Regions from separate parts of the Homo sapiens genome. Here region 1 is linked to region 2. The links come from fine-mapping of genetic effects on gene expression. A gene starts in region 2. The other region holds a variant in brackets. All regions are shown on one strand. Distances are from middle to middle. Region 1 overlaps CMC2 (C-X9-C motif containing 2). Region 2 holds the start of CMC2 (C-X9-C motif containing 2).

What was found. PIP is the estimated chance that this variant, and not a neighbour inherited with it, causes the effect. A credible set is the group of variants that fine-mapping cannot tell apart.
Region 1: its variant is the best candidate, but not a certain one, in a credible set for the expression of CMC2 in fetal neocortex (Walker 2019, PIP 0.83).

The regions. Positions count from the first base shown.
Region 1 is chr16:80,963,712-80,966,597 of GRCh38, reverse strand. It overlaps CMC2 (C-X9-C motif containing 2), which reads left to right. Exons shown (of 4, transcript NM_020188.5): 4 at 1-150. Among named protein-coding and RNA genes, the nearest start is that of CMC2, 42 kb to the left of the region's middle. The variant C/AC (reference allele first, on the strand shown) is at 1,891.
Region 2 is chr16:81,005,584-81,008,498 of GRCh38, reverse strand. CMC2 (C-X9-C motif containing 2) reads left to right here and starts at 1,614. Exons shown (of 4, transcript NM_020188.5): 1 at 1,614-1,765. It overlaps CENPN (centromere protein N), which reads right to left and starts at 1,285. Exons shown (of 11, transcript NM_001100624.3): 1 at 1,222-1,285. RefSeq lists enhancers at 777-916, 1,227-1,336 and a silencer at 1,507-1,876.

The sequences.
Region 1 (2,886 bases), 42 kb after region 2:
ATTGTTTTGAAATTGGTATTATAAAATATCACGTTTTAAAGTTATGATGTTAGTGTCAGTAGAAACCAAGATTTTCAACCTAAGACCAAAACAAGATACAAGTGTAAAATTCAAGTCAAAACATGCATTAAATTTGAATTGGAAATAGTACTTTGAATTCATTATTTTTTTTAAGAAGTATTTCCTAATTCTGTCCACTGAAAAGGTCTTTGAAGCAATGACACCTCAGTAGCAATTAGCATCCTTAGCACTCAGATTATGCTTCCTAATACCATTGCCCACTAAAAACCAGGTCTCTTTGGAGAAGTGGCTGATTCCAGCTCTTGGGCAGTAAATGTCATGTTGAACCTGAGCTATCTTATGCCAGAAAGCAGGGGAAGCATCAAAGACTGCTGGGGTCCTGTCAATAAGACCCAGGAGCTACCTTGAAGGAGTGCCCAGTGGCCACAGGTGAAACAATGCTTACATCGAAAAGAATAGTGAATGCAATAGATTTATACGCATTGAATACGTAAATATCCATGAGTTCATAAAAATGCTTTGAAAGGCGTTAACATCACTGAAGGTTGTTAGGGTATCCAACTCATTACTGTGAAAGGAAAACAAAATATTTGTCCAAACTTTCTGGCATAAACTATTGAAAATAACCATAACCAAATGGATGACTGAGAGAAAGTTATTTATTTATTTATTTATTTTGAGACAGGGTCTCTGTTGCCCGGACTGGAGTGCCGTGGCATGATCTTGGCTCACTGCAACCTCCACTTCCCAAGCTCAAGCGATTCTCCTGCTTCAGCCCCACCAAGTAGCTGGGATTACAGGTGCATGCCACTACTGCCCAGATAATTTTTTTGTATTTTTAGTAGAGACGGTTTTCACCATGTTGGCCAGGCTGGTCTCGAACTCCTGACCTCAAATGATCCACCCACCTCGGCCTCCCAAAGCGCTGGGATTACAGGCGCGAGCCACTGCGCCCAGCCCATAAAGTTCTTTTTAACATATTTCTTGAGATATAATTCATATACCATGAAACTCAATCATTGAATAAATGGTTTTTATTATATTCACAAAATTGTCCAAACATCACCACAACCCAAGTTTAAAATATACAAGGTCAGGAGATCAAGATCATCCTGGCTAACACGGTGAAACCCCGTCTCTACTAAAAATACAAAAAAATTAGCCAGGCATGGTGGCAGGCGCCTGTAGTCCCAGCTACTCAGGAGGCTGAGGCAGGAGAATCGTGTGAACCCGGGAGGCAGAGCTTGCAGTGAGCAGAAATCGCGCCACTGCACTCCAGCCTGGCCGACAGAGCGAGACTCCGTCTCAAAAAAAAAAAAAAAAAAAAAAAACATATATATATATATATATATATATATATATATATATATATATGTTTTTTTTTTTTTTTTTTTTCATTCACGCCAAAAGAAGCCCTGTACTCCTTAGCAATCACACCCCATTCTCTTTCGCCTTCACAGCCCTAGGCAAATACTAATATGTTTTCTGTCTCTATGGATTTGCCTATCTTCCAGACATATTATATAAACGGAAGCTTTAGTTAAATATGTGCTCTTTTGTGATTGGCTTCTTTCACCAAGCATAATATTTTCAAGGTTCATCCAGATCGCGACATGATCAGTACTTTATACCTTCTTATGCTGAATAATAAAAATAAAGTTCTCAGCCTGGCCAACATGGTGAAACCCCGTCTCTACTAAAAATACAAAAATTAGCTGAGTGTGGTGGTGAGCACCTGTAGTCCTAGCTACTAGGTAGGCTGAGGTGTGAGAATCACTTGAACCTGGGAGGCGGAGGTTGCAGTGAGCCAAGATCGCACTACTGCACTCCAATCTGGGTGACAGAGTGAGACCCTGGCTAAAAAAAAAA[C/AC]AAAAAACAAGTTACAAAGCATCATTTTCAGCTCCTAATACAATAATGGGTGAGTGATGTTTAAAATTATCAGTGGGTGTTTGAAACCATTAGGTGGAAGAGAAAGTGGATAGTAGGAAGGTATAAAATTGGATGAATCACACCAGTGAACCCTGAACTCAGTGATAAATCTTAAAATTATTAAATCATTCAAAGACTGCTACATATTGCATGCCTCCTCTTATTTTTTTAAATGAAATGACTACCATATTATTTTTGAAACTAATCAAACTTCTAGAATTAACTTTCACTTTCTGAAGGCTAGAGAAACACGTTACCACAGAAATCCAAAACGTGTGTGATATTCTATAGGACAAATGACTCAATTGTCTTAGCAAATAAGTAGCATAAAAAAGAAGAGGGAGAGGGATTCAATGTATGCTTTAGATTAAGAGATTTAAGAACATAACCAAATGCAATGTGTGAATCTTGTGTGGATTCTGATGGGAACGAACCAACTGAAAAAAGACATCTTTGAGACAGTTGGAGAAATTTGAGTATGATTGGGTTTCAGATGATGTTAAGAAATTGCTGTCATTTTGTTAAGCATAGTAATGGCATTGTGATTATGTTTTAAAAAAATCCTTACTAGTTAAAGATGCCTTGAAGTATTTACAGGGAAAATGATAGATGTGTGGGATTTACTTTAAATTACCAGCAAACAGAGTGGGTGCAGGGGGATTAATGAAACAAGATTGGCTATGTGTTGGTAACTGTTGAAACTGGATGATAGATTCATAAAGTTTTTTTTTTACATTTGTCTCTAATGAATGCTTGAACATTTTTATAATAATTTTTTTAAAGAGTCCTAGATGCTTAGAGTCAAGAAGCAATTTCATCTAGAATATAACTTGTCAGAATATGTGCTTCTCTGAGAAAAGGACTCAGAACGTCAGTTTTTTTTAAATGCTTAACATTTATTTTGGTCTTTTTTTTTTTTTTTTTTGAGACGGAGTC
Region 2 (2,915 bases):
TCGGGAGGCTGAGGCAAGAGAACAGCCTGAATCCGGGAGGAGGAGGTTGCAGTGAGCCGAGAACGTGCCACTGCCCTCCAACATGGGCGACAAAGCAAGACTCCGTCTCAAAAAAACAAAAAACAAACAAAAAAACCCACAGACGAGGCTACCCGTTAAAATGAAGATTCCTGGGCCCTATCAAATTAAACTGTGAGGAGGGCGCACGGAGGGCTTGAGATTTAGCATCTTTTAAAAAGTACGTCAGATGATTTATTCCGGGTAAAGTTTGCAGAACGCCAGTCTAAAGAAATTTGGTAGAGCGCCCTCAGTCTCACCAATTAAGACGGAAATCCCTTTAGTAAACGTTTACCCCGTGACCATTTTTAAACTTTCCTTTTTTTGTTGTTTCGGAGACACAGTCTCGCTTTGTCGCCCAGGGTGCAGTGCAGTGGCGCGATCTCGGGTCACTGCAACCTCCGCCTCCCGGGTTCATGCGCTTCTCCTGCCTCAGCCTCCCAAATAGCTGGGATTACAGGCACCCGATACCACGTCCGGTTAATTTTTGTATTTTTAGTAGAGACGGGGTTTCACCATGTTGGCCAGGCTGGTCTCGAACTCCTGACCTAAGGTGATCCGCCCACGTCGGTCTCCCAAAGTGTTGGGATTACAGGCGTAAACTACCGCGCCTGGCCCCATTTTAAAACTTTCTTTATACTTCCTAGCGTTTTAGTGTCTGACATACAGTAGATGCTCAAGATCTGTGGAACGCATGATCAAAAAGATCCATTTTAAGTAACGTTCCCGTAGCCACACACCTCTGCTGCGCTCCAACAGGCAATGCGAGGAGCAACGCAAGAGGGTACAGGGACAAAAAACGACGGAAGCCGAGGTGACAGAAAAGCAAAACCCCAACTCTGGGAAAGGAAGCAACCCCAGGATCGTAGAGCGGAGCCCCTGGTCACATGACCACACGGCCCTCCCCTGACGCAGTCGCGAGCCTACGAAAGGCTCCACCCGCCCCACCGCGGGCGAGGTGACGTCACAGCCGGCACAGCGCCACCGCCCCCTCACCTCGGCCCGAACCGTAGTTCCTCGCCCCGAGCCCGAGACCCAGCGCCAATCCTGCGCCTCACAACGTGCGACAATTGCGAAAAAGCCACCCCCGAGGCCTGGGATCTGGCTTCCTCAAGGCCCCACACCCTCCGGGGCCCGATCCAGTGCCGCCCGGGGCTCTCTTACCGGCCCACATCTCCTGCAGTCTCACTCCTCAAGAGCTGTTCCCGCTCGCCGCGCCTTCAAAGCCACCAATTGCAGTTCCCGCCGCCTCCAAGCTCCGCCCACCGGAGCACAAGCATCAGGCTGTGTCTTGGGCACAGGGGACTGCACGGGGGAGCGACTGAAGCGAAGGTCGCCGAGCCCCCCACGCCGCTCTTCTTAGAAGTGTGCAACCTTGCACCAGTAGTGGACTTACACATAGGCTCCGTTAGGACCTGGCTTATGTGCTCGGCTTGTGGCTTAGACGCTGCCGTGCCCCAGTGGACTCACTGTGCCTCCCCCCACGACGGACGGAAATGGGCCCCTCCAGGACAGGCGGCGCATGCGCCTTGGGGCCCGCGGGCGGCGGGGGCGAGGAGCCGGGAGCACGGTGGAGCGGTGGAGGGCGTCACTGGGTTTCGGCGTCTGGCAAGCGGTTCAGCTGTCTGCTCCCTAGCAGCCGGCCTTCGGGTCGGGCGTCTCCGCCGGCTACTGCCGCTTCAGTTCTCCCGGTGTGGCCACGAGTCGGGTGAGTCTCGGGAGTCCAGGCCGTTCCGAACGCGTTCCGTTGTTCCTCCTCAGGTCCCTGATGGCGCGTCCCGCCGAGCCCCTTCCTGCCGCCCGTCGGCCCCAGGAGGTGGGGACCAGGAAGACCCGGCTGCCGCAGGCCCACAGCCGGGCTGCTGCGCTGGGGAGGCTGCGAGCGAGGTGGCTGGGCGCTCGCTGGAACACGCTGGTGGCCGAGACAGGCCGTGGGCGTCGCTCGGGGTTGGGATCCGCCCGCCACTCACTCAACTGGCTGGTGACCTTGGGCGCGCTCCTCCCCTCCCGGAGCCGGGGCTTCCTCGCCGGTAAAATGGACCTTGAGGAATGGAGCCCTCAACACAGGGTTTGACACGATGAGCGCCCAATAAAGTGTTGTTATTGTTGTTTATCTAGCAATTGAGAATTTGCGGGTAGAAAACGGGGGCCGTTCAAGCAAGTCTCAGCTGCAGTGCCCTGTGATGTGAGAACCCACCAAGAGCCCCATCAGTACACTTTACTCTTTTTTCTCCTTTAATGCTTTTTTTTTCCAGGAAAGTAATACATTCATCTTGCTTTTCTTGCGTTTAAAGATCAGGCGTTTTACGTAGAGTCTTAAGTAAATCAGTTTTGGAAGTCTTCATTTAAAACCTCAAAGGCATGGAAGTTTTCGATGGCAAAGGAATTATGTTGTGATGCCATTCGTATCTCCTCTCCTTTATATGTATGGCTTTTGCACTTGTTTAGTTGATTTAAAATGAGTTTCTTTTTCATCCTTTTCCTACTGCGTTGAGGCCTGAACTAGTTGTCAGTTTCTGACATTCCGCGAACATCGATTGGGCATTTACCATGTGCATTGGCAAGAATGCTCCCTCACGAGCCTGTGCGTTCCTTGAGATGTGTGAACGAGTATTTTCCTCTGAAATTCACATGATTCTGGCAGAGTGCTAGGCACCTTGTAAGTCCTGGTAATGTTTATTCAGGGAAAGCTGCGAGGGCGCATTCTCTGAGAAACTCTTCGGTGGAAGTCAGAGTAGTTAAGCCCTTCTCCCTAGGCAGCACCCCCGGGTCCCTCCCAGAAGCAGCCTGGCATGGGGTCTACAGTGCCAGCGCCAGTCGCTTTCTTAGTGGTATCGGTTTAGAACTGGTCCTGTGAT